Linked DNA regions of Homo sapiens. The protein of the gene in region 2 purifies or fractionates together with the protein of the main gene of each other region. This does not show direct contact. Each region holds a gene or a part of one and is shown on either strand. Other genes may lie near its edges.

Region 1 (7,867 bases), on a different chromosome or scaffold from region 2:
CAGGTGATCCGCCTACCTTGGCCTCCCAAAGTGCTGGAATTACAGGCGTAAGCCACCATGCCCAGCCATTTCACATTTTATTTGCGGTATTGTCACTTTTTATTTCCATGCCATACTTTCATCCTTGTTGGTCAATACCCTTTCTCAATCACCCATTTTTGTAAAATGTCACATGGGTTTTTTACTAGCAGACAAGGAGACAATGCAACTGCAAGCCTTACTGTCTGTATGTGAACTGACAGATGCACAGAGATCAATCACTGACAGACTTTGAAAGAAGATACATGATTGGTCACTGATCAGGATGCGCATTTGTTAATGTAGTAATTCATGGACCTGAGGAGCTAGCAGCAAATTTGTATTTTATGCAGTTACTCAGAGTTAATTTACTTCAGTAACTGAAATTTGAAACCTTGTTCTCAGGGGACAGGTGTTATTTAACTAAACCATGGTAACTAAAATTCATACATATTGGAACCATTCAAAGAAAGCATTTTTGGCCAGGCCAAAAAAAAGAAAGACTTTTCTGTATGGTTTTATACTGAATATCTTTTATTAATCTCTTAACCTTCTCTGTGACAAAAATGTGTATAAATTACAATTTGTATGTCCTTGATGGTTTTATATCTTTGGTTATTTTACAAATCCTGGTCTAATTAATATTATAATTATTATTATAATTAATTAAACATAAATATGTTTAAATCAAAAGTAAAAAATTATTAAAAATTATTTCAATCTGATGAATAGGGCTACTTTCATTTAGAGTATGAAGTCAAGTAGTGCTTACTGCTGGAATGAGACAGTATTTAGGTTCAATAATGTTCCTGCTTAACATTTCTATAGACATAATCGCTGAGAAAACATGTTCACAGAGACAAATAGGTAAGAATGAGATAAATTTTATCATAGTGGCCGGGCGCGATGGCTCATGCCTGTAATCCCAGCACTTCGGGAGGCTGAGACAGGTGGATCACCTGAGGTCAGGAGTTCAAGACCAGCCTAGCCAACATGGCAAAACCCCATCTCTACTAAAAATACAAAAATGAACTGGGCGTGGTAGCATGCACCTATAGTCCAGCTAATCAGGAGGCTGAGGGAGGAGAATCTCTTGAACCTGGGAGGCAGCAGTTGCAGTGAGCCAAGATTACACCATTGCACTCCAGCCTGGGTGACAGAGTAAGACTCCGTCTCAAAAAAAAAAAAACAAACAAAAAACCTTTTTTATAGTAATGCCATTCATTTTGTCATTCCCTCCAAATTATTTGCCAAAAATCCTCTTTCACTTTTGCTGGAAACCAGGAATTGGAAACCTGTGACTTGCAAAAGCATTTTTACCTAGTTATTAGAATGTTCACTTTCTTATTTTACAGGAAACATACCAAAAAAGGTTTTACCAAGACACATCGGCTGCAGGGCAGCCACAGATACCTGCGTTGGTTGTGTACTATACAACTCCTGAGAGCAGTGTTTACACTGTACTCTACTTAAGTTGCATGAGCTGGAATTGTGCAGTGCACAATTTGCAAAGCTGTATGTGGTAGCCTTATACATTTTACCTACTATTGTTTTTTATTTTGAGACGGAGTCTCACTCTGTCGCCCAGGCTGGAGTGCTATGGCGCAATCTTGGCTCACTGTAACCTCCGCCTCCCAGGTTCAAGAGATTCTCCTGCCTCAGCCTCCTGAGTGGCTGGGATTATAGGCGTATACCACCACACCTGGCTAATTTTTGTATTTTTAGTAGAGATGGGGTTTCACCATGTTGGTCAGGATGGTCTTAAACTCCTGACCTCATGATCTGCCTGCCTCGGTCTCCCAAAGTGCTGGGATTACAGGCGTGAGCCAATGGGCCTGGCCTTTTTTTTTTTTTTTTAACTTGGCAGCAACTTGTTTAATCCAGTATGTAAATGAAGTATACAAAATGTTCTATCTATGCCCATCATCTACACACATTGTTAATGATATCACAGCATATCAAACATTTAATGGCATGGCTGTACTTAGTGGAAAGATGTACTAATAAGGTAAAAATTATAAATAAAATCATTATTTTTAGAACTCGGAGTCCTTTGAAAGCTGAAGTGTGATGTCAATAAGTCATCTAACTCCATGCCAAGCTTAGTATCTGCCAAATCATTTATGTCTCATTTCCATGGCAGCACTTTATTTCTTTAAGACTTGGAACCACAGATGGCACATCTGTTTTCTTGAACGGTATCATTAATTTATTTGATTTATGAATGCTAATTATATGTTTCTGAATGCATCAAATCTATCAGCATTTGCAATGGTCTCTTTGATAAGCACATGGTAAAGAGGAACTATGCCAGGCAATACCCTTCAGGACCTGCTCTTCTCTTAGCAAAGTGAAGCAGTATAATAGTCTAATATGTAATATACACTGATATACACTTTTAAGTAGTAATTCACAACCAGGGAACATCACGAAATGAAAGCAAGAGTTTTAGTTGGTTCATGCAGCCATCTGAAATAACTGCATAAATGAGAATATAGTGAATTCTATTATTCATGAATCATTTATTATTACATGTAGTTATGATTCCAGAAGCCCTTACTCCAAGTTAGATGGAGCCTATATTTTTTTATACATCAAACTTGGCAAACAGTAATTATAGCTGCAAAAACAGCCATCTCTACACTTCAGTGACAAAAATGGAGAGAAGTCTCCTTCAATCAGTCACAATTGTGTCCTTGAATGGCAACAGTGACAACAGCATCACTATCAGTTATGAAGGGCAAGCTATAATTACTATTAACTATGAAGTTCATAATTTCTGAAGAAATGTTAAGAAGATGCTAATTTCCAAATTAAGGTTGTGATGCAGAATTAAGTGTAAATATTCTTTCATTATAGTAGCTAACATTTATATATCAAGTCCTAAGTGCTTCATTATTAATTTGTCTTTCCAATAACCTTAGGTTAGGTTGAGAAAGTATCCATGTTGTCTGTGTTTTACAGATCTGAAGACGAAGGATCAGAGAAGTTTAGTAATTTGTGAGAGGCTATATGTTGGATAAGTGGCAGAGATGAGCCTTAAGCCCGAAACTAAATCTCATATGCTTTCCTTTTCTAACTATACTGTTTACCAGATGTTGGGATGTTAAACTTTCATCCTTCTTCCTTTTGGGTCCAACACATTCTCTTATTTGTCCATAAGAATCACCTGCTGCCCTTGATTAGAATGCAGATCCCTAGGTCTCCACCCCGCAGACGTCTGTGCGTGGGGTGTGGTAGTTGTGGGGGCTGCATAACCAGCATCTTACATAATTCAATTAAGATGATCTGACTTGTGGAATTAAACTAAAACCCACCCACAGGAGAACCAACAGATGCTATTTATTCAGAGTTTGCTGTAGAAGGGAGTCCCACTCACCATCACTTTGTCAGAGGCTCAAAGGTGGGGCAGACGAGTGGGAAAGCTTTATAGAAGTGAAGAAAAGCCCCCGGTATGCTCTGATTGGAAGTTGTTGGCATGGGAAAGCTGCAGGTGGGCTACTAGAAGCGGGGGTATTTTATGTGATGGGTTTGCGGAACATATTTGGCTTTCTCTGGTTGGTGCAGAGGTGGAACTAGGGGTAAAAATAGGGAAGTTGCACTTTGGAAGTCCCAGGCAGGAAGATCGCTTGAGTCCAGGAGTTTGAGACCAGCCTGGGCAACATAGTGAGACCCTGTCATGAAAAAATATTTAAAATTTTTCAAAAATTGCACATCTGTAGTCGTAGGTACTTGGGAGGTTGAGGCAGAGGATCTCTTGAGACCAGGAGATCGAGGCTGCAGTGAGCTAAGATCGTGCGACTACATTCCAGGCTGGGCAACATAGCAAGACCCTGTCTCAAAAAAGAAAAAAAATAGGGAAATTGCCAGTCGTTGACTACTTCCTGACTGTTCTGGTTCAGCTGCTACCAAGGTTGTGGTCTGGCTTCCTGGGCTTCTTATGTGGTTCAGAGTTCTGTTGTCACATACTATCTGGCCATTCATGTATATTGCGTTTCTGAGACCATACTCTGGGAAACACATGGTCCTCTGGTGGTGGTGAAGGTCCCTGTGAGCTAGGGACCATCTGTCAACACTCTTATCACTACTAGTGTCTATCCCTATCAGGCACTAGAAGCACTTAATAAAATCTTGCGAATGAATGAATGAATGATATACAAAAATATTTGATACTGGCTTTAGTTGGAACAAGAAAATGAACTTTGTGTACCACATAGACATCTGTGACTAGAGTGGCCGTCACCAGAAAGGCTGCTCCTTCCAGCTGCTATGCTCTAAATACAATAACCTGAATCTTAGCACGACTGGACTTCGCCTGGACTTCGCCTTGGCCCCGGCTGCCCAAAGTTTCTCTCAAAGCTTCAGCTTAACCCCTGATGTGCTCACCAGCACCAAGGCGCCCTCCTGAGTGCTTTGCTGGGGGTGGGATGGCGTTTGTGGGAAAGGCCGGCTACTTCTGGCATTTCAACGGCGCCTCCAATCCCTGACCTTTAGTTGTGCCCCATTCTCTCCACTCTTTCCCCCTTCTCTGTCCTCACGATTGAGTCTGGGCTGGCGAAGCCTACTGAGGGAGGGGAGTGTACACACATGCACACGCGCGCGCGCGCACACACACACACACACACACACACTCATATATGGTGTTATTAATAATTCAGGACTCAGAGTTTATCTAAGAGAAGACGCTCGACCGGGTGTGAGAGAGCGCGCGGGACAGAGAGCGAGCCAAGGAAGGGGAAGGCGGCGGCGCGCGCTGTCTCCTGGGGAAGCAGTCCCACCTGCTGTGGGGGGCGCCGCTGGGGAGGGGCCGAGCCGTGCTCACGCCTGCACGCCCCGCCCCGCTCGCCGCACGGCCCGGCGACGGGGGAGTTCCCGCGAGTGGCCTCGCGCCCAGACCGTGCGGGGGGCTGTTCGGGTGGAGGCGGGGGAGCCGCCGGGACACCAAAATAGGAGCTGCTTGTGGGGTGGAGCGGCACTAGCTGGCGGCTTCCGAGCGCCTCTTCCAAAGATGGTCAGAGGGGCCGGAGGCGTCCCCGCTCCCGCTCGCTACTAGCCCGCGGGCCAGCGCCGCGTCCCGAGCCCCGGCGGGAGGTAGGTGCGGTGTGGACCCGCAGCCCGAGGCCGGCCTGCTGGGAGCGAGCGGGGCCGGGCGCGGGGAGCGGGGCCGGGCGCGGGCAGCGGGGCCGGGCGCGGGCAGCGAGGCCGCGCGGGAGAGGAGCGCAGACAATGGCCGCGCGGGCGCCGGGCCGGGCCGAACGCGTTGCGCTGGGGCTGCCTGCGGCGTCCTTCCCACACCTGCGCGGAGCGCCGGGCAGAGGGACGCGGGCACCGGGCCCGCGGGCGGCACGCGGCGCCCTCGAGTCCAGCCCCGCTCCTGGCCCCGGGGCGGGGCGGTCTCCGGGCGGGAACGTGGGCCGGGGCCCAGGCGCGGGGCGCGCGGAAACCCCTGCGGCGGGCGCGGGGGAGGGGGCGAGGGCTGCAAGGGCTGCGCCGAGCTGCCTTCCTTTCTCTCCTTCCTTAAGCGAAAGGGCTCGGGATTTCCCTTTTCCGAGACCTCTTCTTGTCCATTTATATTTCCATCATCCCTTTCTTGGCATTTCGATGTGATTTGAAAGGGAGACGAGCTTGGGGAAAAGGTTGAATTGGGGCCGAGCCGAGACAGCTGAGGTCCGGCCTCGAGTGGGGTGACCCTCGGACACTTGCCTTGCCTAGTGTGGGATCTCATCTCCGAACGCCAGGCCAGGGTAGATTGCGGTGAATGGAATAGCAAATCAGTACTCTCAAAAGGACTACTGAAAAATCCAGGAGCCTCATTTCAAGCTCCGAGCTACCCTGAATTTAAATTGACCACCATATAAATGATCAAACAGTCCATCCACATTTTGCATTTATTATTTAGATGCTGAACTTAGTCCAGTTTTGGAGTATATCCGATGATAGTCAAGTTATTTAGCGTTGATTATTTGAGAGAATGTGCAACATTGAAAACACATTTGTTATTTCATATTTATTGCAGCCATGGCTCTAAAAGGACAAGAAGATTATATTTATCTTTTCAAGGATTCAACACATCCAGTGGATTTTCTGGATGCATTCAGAACATTTTACTTGGATGGATTATTTACTGATATTACTCTTCAGTGTCCTTCAGGCATAATTTTCCATTGTCACCGAGCCGTTTTAGCTGCTTGCAGCAATTATTTTAAGGCAATGTTCACAGCTGACATGAAAGAAAAATTTAAAAATAAAATAAAACTCTCTGGCATCCACCATGATATTCTGGAAGGCCTTGTAAATTATGCATACACTTCCCAAATTGAAATAACTAAAAGAAATGTTCAAAGCCTGCTTGAGGCAGCGGATCTGCTACAGTTCCTTTCAGTAAAGAAGGCTTGTGAGCGGTTTTTGGTAAGGCACTTGGATATTGATAATTGTATTGGAATGCACTCCTTTGCAGAATTTCATGTGTGTCCAGAACTAGAGAAGGAATCTCGAAGAATTCTATGTTCAAAGTTTAAGGAAGTGTGGCAACAAGAAGAATTTCTGGAAATCAGCCTTGAAAAGTTTCTCTTTATCTTGTCCAGAAAGAATCTCAGTGTTTGGAAAGAAGAAGCTATCATAGAGCCAGTTATTAAGTGGACTGCTCATGATGTAGAAAATCGAATTGAATGCCTCTATAATCTACTGAGCTATATCAACATTGATATAGATCCAGTGTACTTAAAAACAGCCTTAGGCCTTCAAAGAAGCTGCCTGCTCACCGAAAATAAGATCCGCTCCCTAATATACAATGCCTTGAATCCCATGCATAAAGAGATTTCCCAGAGGTCCACAGCCACAATGTATATAATTGGAGGCTATTACTGGCATCCTTTATCAGAGGTTCACATATGGGATCCTTTGACAAATGTTTGGATTCAGGGAGCAGAAATACCAGATTATACCAGGGAGAGCTATGGTGTTACATGTTTAGGACCCAACATTTATGTAACTGGGGGCTACAGGACGGATAACATAGAAGCTCTTGACACAGTGTGGATCTATAACAGTGAAAGTGATGAATGGACAGAAGGTTTGCCAATGCTCAATGCCAGGTATTACCACTGTGCAGTCACCTTGGGTGGCTGTGTCTATGCTTTAGGTGGTTACAGAAAAGGGGCTCCAGCAGAAGAGGCTGAGTTCTATGATCCTTTAAAAGAGAAATGGATTCCTATTGCAAACATGATTAAAGGTAAGTGGAGATTATGTTTATTTTGTATTTTTTAGATGTCTGGAGCTAGGCCAGCAGTCTCACTTCTCTTGAATTTATCACTTTGGGATGCTATCTAGGAACTATAGTTAATTATACAAATAATGCTACACAGAATGTTCCAGATAAAAACAGTATAGCATAGTTCCCAACTTGTCTGAGAGTTATGAGAATTTATATTCAAGTCAAGGGCTAGATGAAGAGACAAATCTGGACAGTTTTTCATTTTTTCATGTTCTTAAAATTGAACCCTTTAAAATTCTGCTATTCAACTTTTTCCTCTCAAAATACGCTGATCAGCTCTCAAGAGGTCCTTCATTAAAACCTTGGAAGGTTTGGTCCCTACAGGATGTAACAAAGTACATTCTTCCAGGAACTAGAGACAACGTCTGCTTTTGCAATTCAGTCCTCTCTGAGAGGGGCAGACACCATACTCTCCCTCATGTGGCCCACAGAACCCGGCACACCCCTGGGTCTCGGTATCTGTCTGATAAACACTATTTTCTGCTGTGTTTGGCGATTTGTTTGCCTTGCTCTCCTTCTCTCCCACTGGAAAAAAAGTTAAACGGGAATCTTATTTCATTGTATTTATTCATTGGT
Region 2 (7,400 bases):
TAATTTTTTTATATTTTTAGTAGAGACGGGGTTTCACCGTGTTAGCTAGGATGGTCCCGATCTCCTGACCTCGTGATCCGCCCGCCTTGGCCTCCAAAGTGCTGGGATTACAGGCGTGAGCCACCGCGCCCGGCCTCACACATAGGTTTTAAGTTACATTATCTGACCCCAGAGCTGTAAGAAGCTGTAGAGATCATCCCACTAAAATACCCTTGGTCCCACCCTTCTCCATTTTACAGCTGAAGTAAACCAAACTGTAGGGCGGGGAGGTAACCTCACAAGGCTGCATGGTAAATTATGGACAAAACTGAAGCTAGGCCCTACATCTTTGGTTTGTTTTTATTGACCCTATGCTCAGTTGACAAAAGAAGCCTTAGATCCCTTGACTCTCAGGCTGGTGCTCTCTTCTCCAACCCAAGCTGCCCTACCTCCACACCTCTAGCACAGAGGTCACAGCACACTGAGAACCTAGCACAGCGCTCCGCACCAGGAGCTATGTTAAGAATGGAAGAACAAAAGCCCACAAGGAGCAGTTAAGCAACAAAGTCTTGTGTCATTATCAGCCAGACATCAGGTACCCAGTGAGTCCCAGCAGGTGTGAGGTCCAAGGCTCATTGTTAGCCCCAGACCTCGTTCCACCCTAGACACCTCTTAGGGTGGTAGTGTCCGCCACCCCTCCCCTTGTCTTCCAGTCTCCCTCTCTTCCCTTTTGACCTCAGCCCCCAAGGCCAGAAATGGCTGCTGGGCCACCAGGGTTGGGTTGGGGCAGGAAGTGGGGGGTTTACCTGCCCGAACAAAGTAGCAGTGCAGGGAGTGCACGTGGACGTCTTCACTCACAGACTTGGCTGCAGCCACCAGGGCCTGGCCCACGATCTGACCACCAAACAGCCTCTTGGCCGGTACCCAGTAATGCCTTCCTCTGTAGGGAGAGGGGGAAAGAGGGAAAGACTTGGGAACTGGGCCAAATTCTACTACCCTCACTAAGACTCTAATGCATGATCTCTTCACCATATTGGGGTTTAAGATCCTTTTGAGAATATGGTAAAAGCCATAGGTCCTTTCCCCAGGCAAATATCCTTATGCATAAAAATCCTCTGGGCCGGGCGCAGTGGCTTACATCTGTAATCCCAGCACTTTGGGAGGCCGAGGCAGGTGGATCATTTGAGATCAGGAGTTCAAGAGCAGCCTGGCCAACATGGTGAAACTCCATCTCTACTAAAAATACAAAAATTAGCTGGACGTGGTGGCATGCACCTGTAATCCCAGCTACTCAGGAGGCTGAGGCAGGAGAATCACTTGAACCCAGGAGGCAGAGGTTGAGGTGAGCCAAGATCGCACCACTGCACTCCAGCCTGGGTGACAGAGCAAGACTCCATCTCAAAAAATAAAATTAAATAAATGTATAAATGAATAAATAACAAGAGCCCTCAGACATCAAGTCTAACTCCTTCAGTGTACAGATGAGAAAACTGCAGCTTGGCCCCAGAGATGAAAATGCTTGCCCAGAATGTAGGCCCATTGGAAGCTGAATAATTATGTCTCTAGCCTCCCACGTCCCAGCTGTTTGGCATTTTCTGTAACAATGAGTTATGAACAGCCCTCCATGACCTGGCAGGTGGCTCTCGCCTGTAATCAATCCCAGCACTTTGGGAAGCCGAGGTGGGAGGATCGCCTGAGCCCATGAGTTCAAAACCAGCCTGGGCTCCAAAGTGGGGCCTCATGTCTACTAAAAATAAAAAAGTTAGCTGGATGTGGTGGCAAGCGCTTATGGTCCCAGCTAAACGGGAGACTGAGGCAGAAGGGTCACTTGGGCCCAGGAGGTCGAGGTTGCAGTGAGCCATGTTCGTGCCACTGCACTCCAGCCTGGACAACAGGGCCAGATCTTGTCTTCAAAAACAAAAATCAAATAGCCCTCCAAGAAGTTATTTACAATTCCTTAAGTGGAAGGAAGGGAGCTCAAAGTAAGATAACTTCCAGTAAAGCCAGGAGAAGCCTTGGAGGTCAAAGCTGTTAGAAGCCTTGCTGCAGGGGGCTGGGCGCGGTGGCTCATGCCTGTAATCCTAGCACTTTGGCAGAGGTGGGCAGATTACAAGGTCAGGAGTTCGAGACCAGCCTGGCCAACACGGTGAAACCCCGTCTCTACTAAAAGAAGTTAAAAAATTAGCTGGGCTGTGGCGCGCCTGTATGTCCCAGCTAATCAGGAGGCTGAGGCAGGAGAAATGCTTGAACCCGGGAGGCGGAGGTTGCACTGAGCCGAGATCGCACCACTGCACTCCAGCCTGGGCAACAGAGCAAGACTCCGCCTCAAAGAAAGAAAGAAACCCTTGCTGCAGTCAAGAACTTCAGCGATGCTGGGAAAGAAAAAAACATGCTTAGGCCTCAGAATAAGTAATGAGAAACCAGACCCACCAAATGGTACTGGGGGCGGGATATTGTGAGAAGAAAAGGATACTGAAGACACAAGGAGCTGCGGCGTCGGTTTTAAGGCTGATCCATCAGCTGTGTGCCCTTGGGCAAATCACTGCCCTCTCTGGGCTAGCTCCCCCGTGAAGGCTTAGGGCAGGCTGCCGAGCAGGGTCTCTCAGGTCACCACTATATTTGCTCAGCTGTGCAGACCTCGCAGCGCGGAGAGGAAGGGAGGAAGCCAGAGCAGAGAGGACAGCTCTGTTGGGGGCGAGTTCTCTCCTAATCGTGGCAGAGGGTGCATCCCACGCAGAGCCATACTAGTCCCGGAGCCAGGGGCCCCGGGCGGCGGCAGTCAAGATCAAGTTTCTGCCCTAAAGGAGGGGATGCTGGGCAGGAGCTGCCGGCTACCTGAAGAGATCCTCGTCCAGCGGCTCGAGGTTGAGCACGGTCGTGACCAAGACGCTACGGAGGTCCCCAGGGGGATCGCCGCGGTCGCCACAGCCCTGCCCATCTTCTGGGGCCTGCGGGGACGACATCTAGTTCAATGCTGCAGGCCCTGCACACCCGCTCCGCGGAAGACGCGGAGACATACACAGAACCTGACTCTTCCGGCAGATTGCCCTAGTAACCGGAAGTCTCCTGCAGACCCCGGGAAGGAGGAATCTAGGTTATGATTGGTCAGGACTCCTGTCAGTCCGCTGGTGGCTGTGGCCCTCTTTCTCTAGCAATTGGAGAAAATGAATGCCAATCTGCGAATCCTGTGTGTGACTGGATATGTCGCTGAGGAGGCGGAACCTCGGGACTGGATAATATGGACTGAGTGTCATTTCCCCTGTCAGATAGCAAATACACCCCCTTCCTCTTGTAACCCGGTCAGGCCTAGGGTTCCTCCCTGAGTTCCAGAATAGGCCACCCAGTTGGGGCGGACCCTTAAGGCATTCTGGGCCCACGCCTGCCTATAAACCCTCATAGTGTGACCTTTGACCCCTGGTGTGATCTTGGGCCCGGGCTGGGACCAGCCCCTAGTGTGGGTTGTGGGGGCGGCCATGGAGCTGGGCAGCTGCTTCAAGACCTATGAGGACTTCAAGGAGTGCTTCAGCGCCTACAAAAGGGAGAACAGGTGCTCCTTCATTCTCAGGGACTGCGTCTCCGTCCGCTTCCACAACCTCAACCATGGCACCTCCATCCGCGAAGACATCCTGTAAGGGCGGGCGGGGCGGGGCGGGCCAAGAGGGTGGGGAGGAGGCTGGACCTCCGGAGGGCTGCCTGGAGGAGGAGGGGTGCATAGGCACGCATTGGGCTGCGTGGCCATTCATTCAACAGGCACTCATTGAGCACCTGCTGTGTGCCTTGTGAAGAGAGCTAAGCCTCCACGGCCATTGGTTTTTGACCACCCACTCCACTTTCACTCCATTCACAGGCTTTTCTGGAATTTATAACTGCAGTTTCTCCCATTGTTTTGAGCAGCTGCAGCAACCCAAATACAAAGTATGGCTTTCATAAACGGATAAAAACACCTTGGCGATAATTTCCTTCATCAGTCTCCTCTTTACAAAACAGTCACATGGTCGTTGGAATGTTCGTTCATTCATTCATTCAGTTTTTAGTTCTTATATATTTGTTGAAACAGGGTCTCACTCTGTCCCCCAGGCTGGAGTGCAGTGGCACAATCAGCTCACTGAGCCTTCAACTGCTGGGCTCAAGCGATCCTCCCACCTCAGCCTCTCAAGTAGTTGGAACTGGAGGTGCACGCCACCATGCCTGGCTAATTATTTGATTTTGTACAGACTGGGTCTTGTTATGTTGGCTAGGCTGTTCCCAGACTCCTGGACTAAGCGATCTTTCGGCGTCTCAAAGTGTTAGGATTACAGGCATGAGCCACTATGCCTGGTCTATTCATTCATTTTGTAAATGGTTTTTGAGCTCCTTATATTAACCGTTTTCAAACACTTTCCATGTGCCAGGCAGTGTTCTCTATGCATGCTTTACCCTGCAGGGCTTTTTTTTCAGAATTATAGATAAATGTTATTTTTTTGCATTTGACAGATGAGAAGATTTGACAGATGAGAAGTCAGGCTTAGAGGTTAAGACAGGAGTTGAAAACTCAAATGCCTTCAGGGATTAGGTGAAACAACCCAATGTAAGAAAGTTTTAACTTTGAATTTTACTTTAAGAAAAAGAATGATGAAATAGCAACCAACACCAGGTCTTTGTGCTAGGGACAACAGAAGTGTGAAATGGGCCAAATGGAGAGTAGATGCCATCTAATCAGCTCCAGCTGATGGCTGCCATATGAAAATAAAGATCTAGTGTTGCCAGAATTTTGGGCAAGAGTTGTCAGAAATCCACACTTTATGTGGATTTTCCCATTTAAAAAAATTGAATCAGTTCAAATTTTAACTCAGAGCATGCGGGCCAACTCAGAGTTAAAGCATATCCGAGTTTGAGACTTGGATTGAGATGCTCAACCAAAGCTCCTCAATTAGACAGCCAGGCTATATTCTTTCCACTGTTCTGAAGTCCAGTGCTATGCTGGGTATAGGTGACATAAAGATGAATAAGTGTTCAAACTATCCCCAGAGAACTAGGATAAACTTGAACTCAAGCAAACTGGTGTGTGATAAATGCTTTAAAAGGAATGTGGAAAAAAAAAAAAAAAAAGAAATGTACGGAGAAAGAAATGAATGACAAATGCCTGGGAGGTGGGGGAAGTCTTCACACTGGAATTGATGGTTTCCCTGGGCTGTGAATGAATGTAGAGTGCTAGAGTAGATCTGTGGTTAATTACTGAGTACCATGGAGGCATTTGACCAGAAGTTGCTGTGCAGAAGGACCTACAGGAGCAAAGACAAAGATACATGAAAGAAGGTTGGCATGTTAGAGTAACAGTGAGGGATACCATGTTTGGCAGGAGATGAAGTCATTTGCAGTCTAAGGGTCTTTAGGGACCATTGTGAGGTGTTTGGACCTTGTCCTTTATGGGTAGGACCTTGCTAAGCAATGAGAGGAATACAAAAAAAAAAAAAAAAAAAAAAAACCACAGTTGCCCGTAAACACCCTTCAGGAAGACCATCTCAGGTGGCTAGCACAAGGTGTGGCCCATAGCAGGCATTAAATAATTATTGAATGAGTGAGTTATCAAGTACTAACCATGTGATTCAGGGAAATAGGTGCTGCGGGAACTCAGAAGAGAAAAATCACTGCGAGCTAGAGACGTAAGAGTGAAAGGGAGGCTTGAGCTGGGCCCCCAAAGATGGAGAGCTGTCAGAAGGTGTATTGGTTTTCTGTTTGCCACTCTAGTGAATTACCACAAGTTTAATGGTGCAAAGCAACACAAATTTATTATCTTAGAGTTATTTAGGTTAGAAGTCAGGCACAGGTCTTAGCAGGCTAAATCAAGATGTCTGCAGGGCTGTATTTCTTTCTGGAGTCCCTGGGTAAGAATCCATTTCCCGCCGGGTGCAGTGGCTGATGCCTGTAATCCCAGCACTTTGGGAGGCCAAGGTGGGCAGATCACTTGAGGTCAGCAGTTCAAGACCATCCTGGCCAACATGGTGAAACCCCGTCTCTACTAAAAATACAAAAATTAGCTAGGCGAGGTGGCACATGCCCGTAATCCCAGCTACTCAGGAGGCTGAGGCAGCAGAATTGCAGCCGGGAGGTGGAGGTTGCAGTGAGCCAAGATCGTGCCATTGCACTCCAGCCTCGGCAACAGAGCGAGACTCCATCTCAAAAAAAAAAAAAAAAAAAAAAAAAGAATCCTTTTCCTTTCCTTTTCCACCTCCTAGAGGCTGCCCAACACACCTTGGGTCATGGCCCCCTTCCTCCATCTTCAAAGCCAGCAGTAGCAGGTTGAGTCATCACATCACTCTGACCTTGCTTCTGTCATCACGTCTCTGACTCCCTCTTCTGCCTCCCTCTTCCACTTTTAAGGATCCTTGTGATTATATTGGGCCCACCCAGATAATCCCAGATAATTTCCCTATTTTGAAGTCAGCTGATAGCCACCTTAATTCTATCTGCAACCTTAATTCTCCTTTGCCATGTAACCTAACGTATTCACAGAGTCTAGGATTAGGACAAGGACATCTTCAAGGGACCATTCTGCCTGCCACAAGAAGATTAATAACCTGGAGGTAAAAATGGTGTGAGTCAGTACAGACGTAAACATGACGTGCTTCTATTAGAAAACAGTGATGGGCTGGGCACGGTGGCTCACACTTGTAATCCTAATACTTTGGGAGGCTAAGACAGGGAGATTGCTTGAAATGAAGAGTTTGAGACCAGCCCAGACTATAATCCTGGGCAACAAAATGAGATCCCCGTCTCCACAAAACAAAATTTAAAATTAGGGGCCAGGTTGTGGCAGCTCACACGTATAATTCCAGCACTTTGGTAGGCTGAGGCAGGCAGATGGCTTGAGGCCAGGCATTCTAGACCAGCCTGGGCAACATGCCAAAACCTCATCTGTACAAAAAATACAAAAAGTAGCCAGGCATAGTGGTGTGTGCCTGTAGTACCAGCTACTCTGGAGGCTGCGGCAGGAGGATTGCTTGATCCCAGGAGTCAGAGGTTGCAGTGAGCTATGATCGCACCACTGCACACTACATTTTAGCCTGGGCAACAACAGAGTAAGATCCTGTCTCTAAAAAAAAAAAAAAAAGCAAGCAGTGATGTATGTTTGCACGCACATACAAAAGCCATGAGGAGACCTGCTTAGCTAGAAGGAAGGATTTATGCTGGAGCAGCAGGAAAGGAAATTGGAGGGTTGATAAGCAGGTTGGTGGGTTGGGATTTGTTTTGTTTGTTTTAGGAGACAAGGTCTCGCTCTATTGCCCAGGCTAGAGTACAGTGGGAGGGTCATAGTTTACTGTAACCTTGAAATCCTGGCCTCAAGTAATCTTACTACCTCAGCCTCCTAAGTAGCTAGGACTACAGGTATGCACCCCCATGCCAGGCTAATTTTTTTTTTTCAATTTTTTGTGTAGAGACAG

What was found. Proteins that work in one complex are often made in the same cells at the same time.
Region 1: the proteins of ACOT8 (region 2) and KLHL23 purify together in Homo sapiens (affinity purification with mass spectrometry; 3 studies listed by BioGRID and IntAct, with this or other methods). This does not show direct contact.

What each region holds. Positions count from the first base shown.
Region 1 is NC_000002.12:169,728,979-169,736,845, forward strand, and holds the start of KLHL23 (kelch-like protein 23), read left to right. Parts: upstream 1-4,853; 5' UTR 4,854-5,109; intron 5,110-6,034; 5' UTR 6,035-6,036; coding exon 6,037-7,249; intron 7,250-7,867. Other genes in the region: PHOSPHO2-KLHL23 (kelch-like protein 23), read left to right, coding at 6,037-7,249.
Region 2 is NC_000020.11:45,854,374-45,861,773, forward strand, and holds the start of ACOT8 (acyl-coenzyme A thioesterase 8), read right to left. Parts: upstream 3,020-7,400; 5' UTR 2,943-3,019; coding exon 2,815-2,942; intron 920-2,814; coding exon 786-919; intron 1-785. Other genes in the region: ZSWIM3 (zinc finger SWIM domain-containing protein 3), read left to right, coding at 3,453-3,607. UniProt on the Homo sapiens protein: Catalyzes the hydrolysis of acyl-CoAs into free fatty acids and coenzyme A (CoASH), regulating their respective intracellular levels. Displays no strong substrate specificity with respect to the carboxylic acid moiety of Acyl-CoAs.